2 linked regions of the Homo sapiens genome follow. Each later gene encodes a partner of the first gene's protein in a complex. Each region holds a gene or a part of one and is shown on either strand. Other genes may lie near its edges.

Region 1 (7,790 bases):
ACCACGTTAACAAACCAGTCTCTTCCAATAATTAAGTATATATACACACATACATACACACATTTATATATTTCCCCTTTACTCTTATACTTTACCAGCTTCTATTAATACTTATTAAATGGCCACTATACATCAGCTACTACATGCTAAGACTCTTCTATATCTTATTGCAGCCTCACCAAAACTCCATGAGTTATCAACTCCATCTTATAAATGGAAAGTCTAAAGCTTAAAGGGGTTAAGAAATTTGTTCAGTTATTCAGTGCTTAGAGGTAACACAATGTAGCAGTCTGATTCATTAGCGGTCATGTCTTCTGGTATTTATGCCCTTCTATAGTATAGTCCCTTCCCGTTGCATTTGGACCTGGTTTAGCCCATAGAAGGTAGTGAAAGTGATGTGCAAATTTTTGGCCTCGGCCTAAAAAAGGTGTGGTGATTTCCAAGGTGTGGTGGTTTTCACTTGTGCACTCTTAGATATCCTAAGCCAAAGTGTAAGGAATCCATCTACTGTGCTAGAGGGACAAGGGAAGAGATAATATGGAGAAGGAAGAGCTCTGAGACTACATGGAAAGAGCCAGAGGCCCAGCCATCCAGCCAACTTACCAGCTAAATGCAGCCTCCTAGTGACCACTGGCAAGACCAAGAGAACCACCCAGCTGAGCCTAGCTCACTGCAGTATCATGAAACATACCAAAATGGCTATTGTTTTACATCGTCTTGGGGTGGTTTGGTAAAAAATAACAGACAACTAAAACAGGCCAGGATCCAAACTCGGTTATACTGGTCCACTGCCTGTTTTTGTAAAGTTTTATAGGCTCATAGGTGTGCCCATTCATTTATGTGAATGGCTACTTTTGTGCTACAAGAGCAGAGTAGCTACAACAGAGACCATATGACCCACAGAGCTGAAAATATTTACCATCTGGTCCTCTACTAAAGTTTGCCAACCCCTGCTCTATAGCTTAGCCACTGATTCAATTACTCTCAAAGTTTTGCTAGCATTACCTTTGTGGTTTACACTAAAACACACCCGGAGCTCGAACTATCTTTTTGAGAGCACCTTTTTCAAATGTCACCAGAGCACATGCTGCACACATGTTCTCCTTCCTTATTCAAAGAGGGTGATTATTTAGGCCGGGTGCGGTGGCTCACGCCTGTAATCCTAGCACTTTGGGAGGCTGAGGTGGGTGGATCACCTGAGGTCAGGAGTTCAAGACCAGCCTGGCCAACATGAAGAAACCTCATCTCTATTAAAAATACAAAAATTAGCTGGGCGTGGTGGTGCCTGCCTGTGGTCCTAGCTACTCGGGAGGCTGAGGCAGGAGAACCGCTTGAACCCGGGAGTCCGAAGTTGCAGTGAGCCGAGATCGCGCCGCTGCACTCCAGCCAGGGTGACACAGCGAGACTCCATCTCAAAAAAACAAAACAAAACAAAAACAAAAAACAGAAACACAAAAACCAAAGAGGGTGATTATGTAACTGCTCCCTTCACTTTTTAAACTTTTCTATCAGTTATGCAGGCCTTTCAAACTCAATGAGTGTCCCTCCCTTCAGTGCGGTGTCTAAAGATAAAGGCTAAACTAGAGATGGGCTGTATCTGGGACCATTTTCTCAATTTAAAGTGCGAAATGTTTATCTCAGGGGTCCCCTAAAGCTTTATTAATGTGAAATGCCCACTCAATATTTAGTACTACTGTACATTCTTAGACACTTAAAGCTAAAAAGAATCTTGGATATCTAGTCAAAATCTTCCTCAGCTTTACAAATGAGATTTCCAAGGCTCCAGAAAACAAACAACTATACAATGAGAAGCCATCCTAAAGCTCTGAGTTTCCGGTTTCACCTGCAAACTCAGAAAATGCCAATTAACTGTATGTGCAAAGGCTTAACTGTCTAGTCTCTCCAACAAATTCATCTACTTTTTTTTTTTTTTTTTTTTTTTGAGACGGAGTCTCACTCTGTTGCCCAGGCTAGTGTGCAGTGGAGCGATCTCGTCTCACTGCAGCCTCTGCCTCCCGAGTTCAAGCGATTCTCCCACTTCAGCCTCCTGAATAGCTGGAATTACAGGCGCACACCACAAGCCCAGCTAATTTTTGTATTTTTAGTAGAGACGGGGTTTCATCATGTTGGCCAGGCTGGTCTCGAACCCCTGACCTCAGGTGATCCACCAGCCTCGGCCTCCCAAAGTGCTGGGATTACAGGTGTGAGCCACCGTGCCCGGCCTCATCTACATTTTAAATATACTCTCGGAAAGACCCCAGAAGTGTTTGTTGACTGAGTTTACTAATTAAGATTCAATATTACCAAATATTGAAATTCCCCAAGTTTGTACTTTTAGGTGGCTTAACTAACATTTTCTTACTGTGGTCACCTAAACCCGAACTTCCAGTTCTACCAGTTTTAAAAGATGAACGATAGCAAAAACAGTGAGTAATGAACCAAATGATATCATTTAAAATGTTGTCATTAGCCTGCAACGTTCTGTGAGGAGTCTGCCCACTTCCGCCAGGTTTTCAGTCCAAACATCTTTGACATAAAAGTTCATTATGCTGCACAATCGCAGAATCTTAGCTCTTAAAGCCGAAATGAGGCTTGGAGCTCTAGTGAATACCTCTCTCGTTTTACAAATGAGAACCCAGACAAGTTGAGTGATTTGTCCAAGGTTCCCACCCAGCCACTTAAAGTGGCAAAGACATTACCGTAAAATTCTCGACCACGACCAACGAGCCCTGGGCAATCATTAGCAGTAGAGGTTCCTGAAGAACCTTAGGGAGACCTGGCAGGAGTTGTGGGTCAAGAGAATGGTACTTCCACCGACAATTCCTGGGCACTGTCTGAGCTTCATTCCCTGATTCCCTGAGAGGTCGCTGGGGAAACGCTCGGGCCAAGGAGGGGATACCCCTGCTCAGACAGCGACCCCGCTGGGTTCATGGCGGGGATGGCCAGGCCCAAAGAGAGAAAGAAAACAACCAAAGAGTGGACGTTGGTCTCAGGCCCGGGGTTCCGGAGACCCCAGTCCCTCGACCCACCCGCCTGAGCCAAGGAACCCAGCGCGTCCGCCCTAAACGCACCCTCAGCCCCAACCTACTCTGGAGACCCTCCGACCCAACTTCCGGGCTTCGAACCGGGTCGGTTTCACCCCCTCCACCACCCGCCACGATCCCACGCGCGCAGAACAGCCCCATCCGAAAGCGGCCCAGAGCGCTGGAGAGGGGCGGCGCGACGCGCACTCACCGGTGAGTTCCATGGCCGCCAGTGTCCGGACCTCCCGCGGCTGCAGCCGGAGTCCCTCCCTGCTGTTCCGCAGCACCAATCTAGGGCGTCCGCGCCCAAGGGCCGCGCCCCCGAGGCAGCCAATCACAAAGAGGCGCTGAGGTCACGTCCGAGAGAGACGCTCTGTCGTCCCCACCCTTAAGCGCGAGATGTAACGTCAGCGCGCGCCTGCGCCCGTCTCCTAGAAGCGGCCGACGGTAGGGTGGGTGCTCACCCTGGTTTCCTGGTTACAGCGTCTCTATTCCGGACGCCAGTTCTCTGCGCGCTTGCTTCTGATTGGAGAGACTTTTTGTTTGTAATCAGCTGTGCCACGGCAAAACCGTGCCGGTTCTTACCGCTCTGGGACGTTTGCCAGATAAATAAATAAAAATACACAAAAAGTCAAAACAGATGAAACTATGAAGTTTTAATTTCAGATAAAGCACAAATGATGTTTAATACAAGCATGTACCAAATATTGGGGACTTCACTACACATTCGTTTTTTATCGGACATGTAAATTTAACTAGACATCCTGTTATTTATATGGCAATTCTACACTCTGAGGGAAACATACGAGGTCTGATCTGAAATATCAACTCCCACTCGACTGGTTCAACTAGTTACGATGGTGCTTGACTAGGAAGCTAAAGAATCAGTGAGAGTGGTATGACGGTCATCCATGCGTCACAGCTGGTACTTGGAATCCCCCATCCCTGCCATACGTGCGTTTTCGAGAAGAAATTCCTTTCTGAGTACCATCACAGCCACCGTTACTGGCACCCATTTTATTAAGCCTAGTGTAAGCCTATTCATCCCTGAAAATGTCTGCTCCTTTCTGATGCTTTCCCCAAGCCTCCAGAGAATGAAATACTCTCACTTTTTAATTTTAATAGTACTTTGGCCACATGCTGGCCAAAGTATAACATTTATCAGATGATATTCAAGTTGTTTGCCTGATTGCATTCTCCCTCCTCACCCTGATCCTTGATTACTTGTCTCTTGAGATCTCACATGGACTTCTTTCTGAAAACGGAAATTGTATTTGCTTGTTAAATGTCTGCCTTCCCTGCCAGATAGTAAACTGAGGCAGGATCTGTTCTTGGTAATGGATGTTGAGGAAGTTTTAGTTTAATACATGAATTTCTTTACCCAATGTCAGCACACTCCCTGACACATATTAGATGCTCACAATAAAATGTATTGACAGTATTTCGTGGAGTGTACCTTATACAAATTACAGTGCAATAACATCATTGAAAGAGCATTTTAGTTGTGAGATTTGAAGCGAATTAATGAGTTGATGAGTAAGACTAGAGTAGCAATCGATACTTTGCCCTGTGTTAATATTGATGAAGCATCGGAGAATTACAGTGATGAAGACTCAAGGACACTTAATTAAGCTTTATAATTTGTAGTTGGTTTCACAGATAACAGCGACATTACCAGATAGGTACAGCATTTGGCCTCCTTTCCATTTTTGTAATAGGTTTTAAGACAAAGAGTGGGGGTAGAAATCCTGGAAGGTATAAATGAGGGTTAAGCCTCACTTATTGAGCCCCTGGTTTGCCCCTGCCATAGTTCTGATCACAGTACACGTTTGAAATTCCACCATGAATCTTTTTTCAAAATATAACAAATATTTCTTATTTTTATCATCAAACATTTACTGGATGTCTGCTCTGTAAAAGGCCTTGTGGGGAATACAAGAAATATTAAGCATAGTCCCTGTGTTTCAACAGCTTTTTATTTTTTCTAGCTTTTCCTGTACATGTTATCAATAGTCAAAAGAAATCCACCTTTCTTAAAAGGTTCTTTGTGTTTCAAATATAGAATAGGCTGACCTTTATAAATAGATATTAATAGAGGCACACTGTTGCTGAGTCTCTGTGGGGGAGGGCGTTGAGGAGCCTGCAGGCTGTTCCAACAAAGTCTGAAAACATTGAACATTTATTTAAAGCTCCAGCTTCTGTCCTAGGCACTGAGCATTAAAAGATAAATAAATCATGATTCCGACTCCCAAGGGTTCATAATCTCACCTGGGTACATGACTTCATTTATAGTCAGTTAAGTAAAGGTCTCCATTTAAGGCTATATTCTAAAAAGTCAAAAGAAATTTGTAGTAGCAAGATTAAGATATAAATCTGGAGATGATTCTAATTATGGTGTCCTGCCTTAATGTATGGTCTCAAGGTATGTCTTGAGAGAATTTTCTCCGGAACCACTAAAATTAGACTAAGATACTTACATGCATTATATTCTGATTGCACTTAATAAAATATGAGGGCAATTGGTACCAGTTTTAGTATTAAACGACCTGAGATGATGAAGATGTAAAATAAATGTAGATATCATCTTCCCTTGAAATTCAGTTTTTGCAACTTCATATGTAAATTAGCTCTTTGGGATAATCTTGGAGTGCGAAGGCAACAAACATGTCTTGAGAGCCTACTATCTGTGTACAAAGCACGATGCAGAGAAAACCTGGCATGAGCTTTACTTGCAAGGAAACAATACAGAGTTAAGGCATATGTAAATATCTACGATAAAAAGCAGGAAGTGATAAATGCCATAAGAGAAATATAAGAAAAATATTGGGAGTTCAAAGGGGAAGAGTATTTCTAGCTGCCAGCATTTAGCTAGAAGAATAAGTAGATGGTGTCATGCAACTCTTGGGAACAGGGTAATTCCAAGAACAACATGAATGAGGTACAGACAGGTGCTGTCCAGCAAACACTGCTTTGTAATCACAAAGGAAAAGAGAAGGGAAAGTGGGCAGACAGAAGAAGAGTGGCATTATCAATGAAGGTTAGAGCAAACTGGTAGAAGATATTACTAAGGAAAATGGGCTTGATGTTGAGGCGGACTTCCAGCCAAGATCACATTTTCAATTAGTATTTTGAGACTCCTAACTCCTGATTCTGCTTCAAATATAACAATAAGTGATACAATATAAATGAGAAAATTTAATGTTTTACCTGTGATTTAAACAAGAAGATAAACATTTCCGTGTATCAGAAACAGAACCAATACGCAAAATGGTGATCAGGAACAAAGCCACCTAGGTCCTGGATTCTGTATGTGGCAGCAGGAAGATGTGAACCAGGGTTCAGCCCCTGTAGAATAATAGACTAACAGGGTTCCATGTGTGGCTTGATACAGGAACCAGTTTTGTGAGAGACTGTTACAACGGTGACCTTCAATAAACCAGTATTCCATATTGGCAGCCTTGTCTAATCCTCTCCCACATTGGCTCTGGGTTTGAGCATGTGACTGGAATGGCCAAATGAGATGCCACAGATGCTTAATAAGTGTTTATTTACTGGGATGCATCTTGTTGGAACCTTTCCTCTTGAAAGCCAATGACCATGCTGTGAAGCTCAGACAAGATATTGGATAATGGCAAGCCACATGGAGAGAAGCCCTGAAGAATGAGAGGTCATCTTGGGCATTCCAGCAGTAAGTGAGTTCCCAATTTAATATAACCACTGGAGTGACTTCAGCCTATACTATGTGGAAAGAACCACTTAGCTGATCCTAACTAACCCACAGAATTATGAGAAATAATAAATCGTTATTGTCTCAAAACATTAAGTTTTTGGGTGATTTGTTACATAGCAATAGATAACCAAGCCTTATTGCTTAACCATCTCCCCTACTTGTGAATAGACATTGAAAGAATTTTTTGCCAACAGTCTGAGGATATAACTTTGCTAACAGAACTGAGCCAAGCAACATAATTTGCAATTTTCCACTATCACTGCTAGTCTGGGGGATATAAGCACACACACACACACACACACACACACACACACATACACACACACACACACGGGGAGAGGAGAGAGTGAGAGTGAGAGCGAGAGAGAGAGAGCTCTCAAGATTGGTTTATAAACCAAAATTCAAAAACAATGGAAGATATATAATATTAAGAAAGACAACACACAAATGTAACAATGGAAGAAGAATTCACTCTAGACGCAATTCAAATAATTTTTGAAATGACATTTTTAAAAGAATAAGAATTTGGAAATAAAAACATGCAGAAATTAAACAAACACCAGTGGATATAAAAGAATCAATTAGATACCTTGAACATGAAGATGTTACTAGCATTTTTAAAACTCATATTGATAAGCTTTAGGCTACACACTGTTGAAACAAAGGTTAGTGTGGTGGAAAAGAGTAACTAAGGCAGTTACTTCTTTTTGATGCAGAATATGAGATGAAATGTCAAACCACAATCAAAGCTTTGTCCTAGGAAAATTGTTCCAAGAACTGGAGAAAAGGAAGGTGAAAGAGTGGCACAGCTGGAGAAGAGACCAGTTAGGCTGTTCCAGTAGTCCAGAAGCCTCCTTGCAATTTAAAGTAGGGGCTGCAGATCAGCAACAGCAACTGGGAGCTGGTCAGAAGTGCAGACTCTCAGATTCTCCAGACCTGCTAAATCTGAATCTGCAATTTAACAAGATCTGGAATGATAGTATGCACATTATAGCTTAAGAAACTAGCTCTAGACTAGAGGCAATGAGGACCTGATG
Region 2 (7,798 bases), on another chromosome or scaffold:
AGGGTAAAATATATGACTAGATATTTCATAAAAAGGAAACAAAGACAGTTCATAAACATACAAAAGATGCTCAATCTCATTAATAACAAAAAATGCAAATTAAAACCACAATGATGCATCATTTCATACCCATTCCATTGGCAAATATTAAGTCTGACAATAACAAGTGTTGGAGAGGTTGTAGATCAACTGTAACTCTTACACACTGTTGATCAAAGTATATAAACAGACAAAACTGCTGGCCAAAGTACAAACTGATACAACCCCTTCAGAAAGTAATCTGACATTATTTTGTAAAGCTGATCATTCATACCCCTTGATCTAGCAATCCCATTTCTAGCAAACAGCTTACTATAGTGATACGGCAGTATTTCTTTCTCTTTTCTTTTTCTTTTGCTGCTGAACAAATTAACATGGTGGTATTTCAACCTTTTTTTTTTGCTCGCAAACCACCAAAAGTGCTTTTTAAAATTGCATACCCTTTACCCATTAAGATGACATTTAAAAAATATCACCATAAGATTAAATAATTGCAAAGGGTGAATTTCTAGAACATCACAGTAACATTTTAAAGTAAAACTGATTATCTCATTCTTTTAAATGTATAATTATTACCAGCATATGGTTGGCCAAAAAATATACCCTGATAACATAAAAAAAAAAGCAACTTTATTGGAAATATCTCTCTTAAGGAAATGGATGGGGAAGTGCCAGGATTAAAAGAGGCTTTCCCTAACACTATAGTGGTATTTTAAATTATCCCTTTGTAGGCCAGGCGCGGTGGCCTGTAATCCCAGCACTTTGGGAGGCCGAGTCGGGCAGATCACCTGAGGTCAGGAGTTCAAGACGTGCCTAGCCAACATGGTGAAATCCCGTCTCTACTAAAAATACAAAATTAGCCGGGTGTGGTGGTGCGCGCCTGTAATCCCAGCTACTCAGAGGCTGAGGCAAGAGAATCACTTGAACTTGGGAGGCAGAGGTTGCAGTGAGCCGAGATCGTGCCATTGCACTCCAGCCTGGGCAAAAAGAGCAAAACTTCACTCAAAAAAAAAAAAAAAAAAAAAAAAAATCCCTTTGTTTTCCCCAAGGGAGTTTTCCCCCTTTGGGCAATGCCATAGTAAGATTCCACAAGAACCTGTGGTTTGCCTGTCTTATGTAAAGTGCAATGTTAGAAACACAAGGTAAGAAAGTAGCACTAGCAGGAGGCCTCAGGCATTACCATTTTTAGGAAAGAGTACCTATGGAATGTAATGATCTAGAAACTGATTCATTAACATCATTTGTACCCACACATTCCTTAGCAAATCTTCATTACTCCTCTGGGGCTCATATACCCCAGTGTGAAAATTAGAAAAATTCTTACAACTGTGAACCAAAAAGTATATAACTTCATAACAGCAAAACCTAGAAACAACCAAAATGCCCATTAACAGAAGAATGCATACACTGTGTTATATTCACACTTGGAATATTACACAGCAGTGAAAATTAATGACTTACATCTATACCCAATATTAGTAACTCAGAAACATAACATCAAGTGAAATAAGCAAGTCCCAGGAAACTATACCCAATATGATTTTTTCCACTCAAAAACAACAGAAACCATACAATACATTTTTGAGGGATGTATACATATCTGATAAAATTATTTTTAAAAACAAGGCATAATATACACAATTCAGGATGGTAGTCACCTCTGGAAGTAAGCACATTCAATACTGGTCATTTTGATTATTGGATTGAGTGGTGAATTCATAGGTGTTCATTTTATTGTTCTGCTATACAGCTTGCATATGTTTTACATATATTTTGAATTTATCAAATACTACAATAAAATGGAGAGGAAAAGAAAAATTTTTTAAACATTCATCATAAGAAAAAAAATACTTTTAATTAAATCACCTCACCTGCCACTAAAGAGGTACATATTTAACATATCATGGAAATTCTATCTATACATCAATCATAGGATCTGACATACATTAGGTATACAACAAATGTTCATTGGAATTAATCTTATGAGAACCAAAGGAGATAAAGACTAAGCCAATTAGCTATAAGAGATAAATCCATAGGCTGACACAGGGCTACAAGAGAAGCCAAGGTGGCTACAAGCAAATTTAGCAGCAACCAAAAGTCATAAGGAAGCTGGTCAGTAAAGAGATGGCAAAAATGTAAAGTCTCATAACATAAAGTGTTAGCAGGGTTGTGAGGAAATTGTGTTCTCACTCAACACCAGTGACAGTGAAAATTGGTACAACCACTTCGAGAGCTTCTGTGATACTTGGTTAAATTGAAGACGCACATAGCCTACAATCCGGCAAATCTACTACTTAGGTGTACTTCCTACAGAAACTTCCAAATGTGTGCACAAGCAGACAAGTACAAAGATATTTATTGCAGGACTGTTTTTAAGAGTCAAAAACTGAAACAAGTTCAAAGTCTATCAACAGGGGAATGTATAAATAAATATGGTATATTCATACAACGCAATTCTATACCAGCAATTAAAATGAATGAACCAAAGATAACACAATCATTCAATTTGTTCATATATAAACCTCAAAATATGATGCTGAGCAAAAAAAAAAAAAGCAAGTTGCAAAAAGGCATGTATATTTTAATGCCATTAAAGTTTAAAAACAAACAATAATATATATTGTGTATGGATTCACCTTGATCAAAGTATAAAATATGCAAAGTAAAGATATACACAAACCTCAACGCAGTGGCTATCTCTAGAAAAGGAGGGGAAGGAACTGAGAGCAATTTTATTTCTTTAAAAAAAAAGAGTATCTGAAGTAAATTTGGCAAAAGATTAAATAATCACGTCTGTAAAATCTGAATCATGGATTGGTTAGCTCCCCCTCTGTATTTGATATCTGAAATATTCCAAAAATTAAAAGAAAAAAAGGAAAATTAGACAATAAGAAAATTGGGCAGAACAAAGACACCAAAACGCAGCCCTTGAGCGCAGAGCACGAAACCTTGAGCAATCGGAGCAGTAGCTGGGTCTCTAAGGGGTTTGAAGTTTCTTACCCTAGGTATCCTTATACTATATCCCATTTTCCTTAGGATAAATCGCAAATTTCTTGCAACAAAAAATGTCCTAACTAGAGTCGTAGTTATAAGGAAAAGGCTCTCTCCGGAGGAGTAAAATCTGTAAAATTTCTACCTTGTTTCCCTCGCCAGGATCTTGGGCAAAATGGAAAGAGATTTAGGTGAATGCCATAAAATACTCTATAAACCATTAAATATCATCAAGAACGCCTAAGGACCGCATCGCCCAGTAGGAGAGTGCATATATTTTGAAAGGTCTCTGCAACTGAGGGGGTTTTGGCGTCCAGGGCGCCACTGGAAAAGGCACGGCGCACTGGTACCAGCCCAAATTCACCTACGTCTCGGCTTCATTTTTTATCTTTGATCCCCCTATTCTGTCTCCTGAACAGGCTGGCTGAAGAGGCCACACTGGCAGCGTCAACACTGCGGAGCAGCTGGCCAGACTCGATCCTGTCCACCCCCCTTCCCATTAGCGTCTGTGGGAGAGAATGCTCAGAAAGAGGCGCGGGGGCGAGGGGAGCGGCGAGGTTACCCCCCTCCTGGGTCCGTTCCGTGGGGACAGGCCCTGGACTGGACTGCCAGTTCACACGAAAACAGGTGGCAACAGAGTCGTGACACGCACACACAGCAAGGGGTGTGCACGAACGTTCACGCTCACCAACGAAACCTGCACACAAGAGATACCCACTCGACAGAATTAAATCCGCACACAAGAGATCACGCACTCAACAGGACCCATGCGCAGACACTCTGCGTCACTCGGAGACACGCAAGGACGCACACTTGCGCGAGCAAGGCTCTAGGCGGGGGTCGCAATTGCAGAAGGCGCGGCCACGCGCGCTAGGGGACGCGCAGCCCACAGACAGGGGCAGTAACACAAAGGGGGGCCACCTGCAAGGCCGAGAGCGCCCACGCAGCCGCCAGGGAGCGCGGACACCGACACAAAAGGGGCGACGAGGCGACACGCGAGCGCCTCCACCCAGCGGAGGTGTCAGCCACGCACCGGCCGAGGCACGGGCAGCGGGGGGTTGCGCACAAAGGGACTACTCACACCCTCGCACCGGCATCCCAGGGCCTCGCTCGCGAAGGGGCACCAGACCAAGGGGGCAAACCCACTGGGGTAGGCAATGGCGGCCACACCCCCTCATCGCGCGGGACCCAACCCATGCAGACACAGTAGGCACCTCAGCGAGGGACGCGAGGAGACGCGCACACACCCACACTCACCACACACCCACGGAGGGGGTGTGGAAGGCCCCGCTCCCCCGGCATCTCGGCTGCAGCGGGACAAGGTGACACATCCGGGAGCCCGGCAGCGCGCCGGGTGTGCACTCACCCGGGCCCGCCGCCCGCGAGCCTCGGACGCGGGCAGCAGCAGCAGCAGCCGCCGCCGCCGCCGCCGCCACCTCCGGCCCTCCACGTCAGCCGACGGCGGGAGGGAGCGGGTGGCGGCGTTGAAGCGAGGTGCGTCACGTGGGCTGGCAGCGCGCGTGCGCAGTCGCACCCCACCGCCCCCTCCTTCGCCGTCGCGAGCCGCGGGATCACGCCCGCCCCCGCGCTCGCTGGCTCCCACCCGGGGAGGGTCGTTGTGCGCCTGCGCCAGGGTGGGGGTTGCCGTCGCGCCTAGGCCTTTCCCTCAGGTTTTCCTCTTCCCCACTGCGGCTCCCCAGTCGGCGCTTGCGCGGAGAACTCAGCGCTGAGGTGGCCGAGGTGTCGGGAGGGGCCTGGGTGGGCGTATGAAGGACCCGAGGTCGAGGGCCCCCCCATACCCCGCCTCGAATGAGAAATAGAAGTCTCCACGAATGGGCAGGGCCCGGGGCCTGGGCGCCGCGACCTAGTAGGCCCGCATGCTGGTGGGCGCCGCGCGAGCCTTGTTCCCTGCCCTCCCCTCCCACAGGGAGGCCACGCTTGCAGAGCTGGAGCGCGCGTCTATCGCCCCAGAACCCCCCTCCCTGCCCTATCCTCCGCCACCCCTTCTGTTGCGGGGCGCGCGCCAGCCTGGGTGTCTGTATGCGCTCGAGGCGGGGGCGCGGGTTGCGGACGGAGGCGCGGGAGGCGGTTCTGCGCGGCGGGGGCCGTACCCGCGGCGGAGCGAGGAGGCGAGAATGGATCAATGGTGCCACGGAGCACATCGCTGACGCTGATTGTGTTCCTTTTCCACAGATTGTCTAAAGCCCCAGGAAAAATGGTGGAAAATTCACCGTCGCCATTGCCAGAAAGAGCGATTTATGGCTTTGTTCTTTTCTTAAGCTCCCAATTTGGCTTCAGTAAGTACTTTCCTGATGGATGGCCAGGGGCTTTTTCTGGCGTTCAGTGACAAGGGAAGAATACATTGGTTAGACTGTGCACACATGAACTGTTGATTCTTTCTCCCTATGTCTCTTTTTAAGAAAATCTGAAGGGATCTCGTGTTTGCTGAGTGTTCCGTGTGCCAGCACTAGCCTAGGAGGTTTTAGTCTCTACAAATATTTATACAGCACCAGACGCGATGGCAAAGTGGATAAAGCCTGGTCCCTGCCCTTAAGGAGGTCGTGGTCTTGTGGAGGAGACAGATGGGTAAATCTACAGTTAATGCTCAGTGTGATGAGTGTCAGGGAGCACGGTGGAGAGACATTGAAACCAGACTGGAAAGTCAAGGCTTTCTACAGAGGCCTTTCCCCCTGGCACTGATGCTGATTAGGAAAGAGTAAGAGGGAGGGAAGAAGTGGAAAGGCCTTGAATGAGGGCGTGAGAGGGTTTGGACCCGAGGAGCTTGTGATGTCACCAGTGTGCCCTGCGGGATCTGGGGAACAGGAGAAGTAGGCCAGAGAAGTCGGGTTGAAAGGTGTGTCGTTTGCGTCCTGGATCTCCCTTAATTTAACCCCATAACATTCCATTTTACAGATAAGGAGACTGATGCTCACTAAGACACTAATATGCCCACTCACACAGCAAGTCCCAAGTCTCTCCCCAAAATGATTTGAGAATTTTGAGGCACACAAAAGGGAGAAAATTGAGTGCCCGTGATCCAACGTTCTGCAACTGTTTGGAAACCAGGAAAGTGGAGGAGTGGTAGTACTTCTGAACCCTAACTAAAATATATCAGCCTGCACCATCAGCACAGCTTGCAGATGAATGTAATGGCCAGGCTATTAAAACTGAAGTGAAGTGAAGAAGTTACAACTGAGTTCGAATTCTGACTCCTCCACAGATTAGCCATGTGAGCTGGGACCCTCAGCAAATTTTTTGAGCCTCAGGTTCCTTATCTGTAAAAGGGTAGTGATAATGATGGTTATTAAATGCTTATGACGCATGAAACAGTTCTATGGGGTAGGTTCTGTTATTACTGTCCTTTAAAGATGAGCATCCTGTGGTTTCAGTAACTTGCTCAAGATTGCAAAGCTACTAAATAAAAGCCTTCTAAATTTGAACCCAAATACACTGGCTGACTTCACTCTGCTGCCTCTTCTGACTGTTGTGAGGATTAACGGGGGTAATTTATGTAAAGCACGTAAAATAATGCCTAGGAACAGTTAGGGACTTAATAAGTGTTAGCTACTGATGTTATTGTTAGCACTTTTGTAAATCCTTGTTCAAAGAGTATGTCAAGGATTAGAAGCTATATGAATAAATAAAAGCAATCACTTTAAGGCTTAAATTCTGGCCGGCCTGGTGGCTCACGCCTGTAATCCCGGCACTTTGGGTGGCCGAGGCAGGCAGATCATCTGAGGTCGGGAGTTTGAGACCAGCCAGACCAACATGGAAAAACCCTGTCTCTACTAAAAATACAAAATTAGCCGGGATGGTGGCGCATGCCTGTAACTCCAGCTACTCGGGAGGCTGAGGCAGGAGAATCGCTTGAACCCGGGAGGCGGAGGTTGCCGTGAGCTGAGATTGCACTTTTGCACTCCAGCCTGGGCAACGAGCGAAACTGTCTCAAAACAAAATTAAATTCCATCATACCCACAACCAAAAAGTAATTCAAGTATTTATTGGTGCTTACCATGTGCCAGGCACTGTTACAGGCCAGGAAGGACCAAAACAGCCAAAAATGCCCTGCTTTGAGTCTTCATTCTCATGCCGGGGGGAGATAGTCAATGGGCAAGTTAAATAAGAAAAACGTATATAGTATCAGGTGATAACGTACTATGGGGAGAAATTAAGCAAAGGGAAGGAGGATACGAAGTGGAAGGAGGGCCTTCTAATGTGCTTCTATGTCATCTTTTATTACTCATTCGTGAGCACTTGTAACAATGTAGTGAAAATACCAATTTTCTCTATTCACCACTAGATTTTAAGTTTAGGGAGGGCAGAAGCCATCTCTTTTGGATTCAATATTGTGTCTCACACACCTGACATACAGAATTCTGTAATACATATTTGTTAAGAAAAGAATGCATCATCACTGATGTAGTAGGTAGTTAAAATTTATCTTTGCCGCTTACCTTGGGTAGGTGATGTATCCTTTCTAAGCTTCCATTTCCTCATCATTTAAAATTGCATACTTGCCTTGGAGGATTGTCTTGGAGGATTATCTTAATGCATACAGAATGCTTGGAACTGTGCTTAACCCACAGTGAGTGCTCAGAACTTAGCCATTGTTGTTATCGTGGGATAACAGTAAAGAGTGCCGAGATTTCGGATTGAGGGAAATAACATTGTACTCTGGGAGATAGGGCAGAAGCTCAGTATGTGGTGGATGAGAACTAGGGTAGGTAAATTTCCCTTTGAGCAATTAAATGTCTATAATTACTTC

The links.
Region 2: PIGA (region 1) and PIGP share a complex: the UniProt entries of both Homo sapiens proteins name them as parts of the glycosylphosphatidylinositol-N-acetylglucosaminyltransferase (GPI-GnT) complex.

The regions. Positions count from the first base shown.
Region 1 is NC_000023.11:15,332,267-15,340,056, forward strand, and holds the start of PIGA (phosphatidylinositol N-acetylglucosaminyltransferase subunit A), read right to left. Parts: upstream 3,258-7,790; 5' UTR 3,248-3,257; coding exon of another isoform or gene 3,235-3,247; intron 1-3,234. UniProt on the Homo sapiens protein: Catalytic subunit of the glycosylphosphatidylinositol-N-acetylglucosaminyltransferase (GPI-GnT) complex that catalyzes the transfer of N-acetylglucosamine from UDP-N-acetylglucosamine to phosphatidylinositol and participates in the first step of GPI biosynthesis.
Region 2 is NC_000021.9:37,069,966-37,077,763, reverse strand, and holds the start of PIGP (phosphatidylinositol N-acetylglucosaminyltransferase subunit P), read left to right. Parts: upstream 1-4,692; 5' UTR 4,693-4,764; exon of another isoform or gene 4,765-4,916; intron 4,917-4,960; exon of another isoform or gene 4,961-5,176; coding exon of another isoform or gene 5,177-5,248; coding exon 5,249-5,330; intron 5,331-5,453; exon of another isoform or gene 5,454-5,615; coding exon of another isoform or gene 5,616-5,619; intron 5,620-7,798. Other genes in the region: E3 ubiquitin-protein ligase TTC3, read right to left, coding at 4,281-4,335. UniProt on the Homo sapiens protein: Part of the glycosylphosphatidylinositol-N-acetylglucosaminyltransferase (GPI-GnT) complex that catalyzes the transfer of N-acetylglucosamine from UDP-N-acetylglucosamine to phosphatidylinositol and participates in the first step of GPI biosynthesis.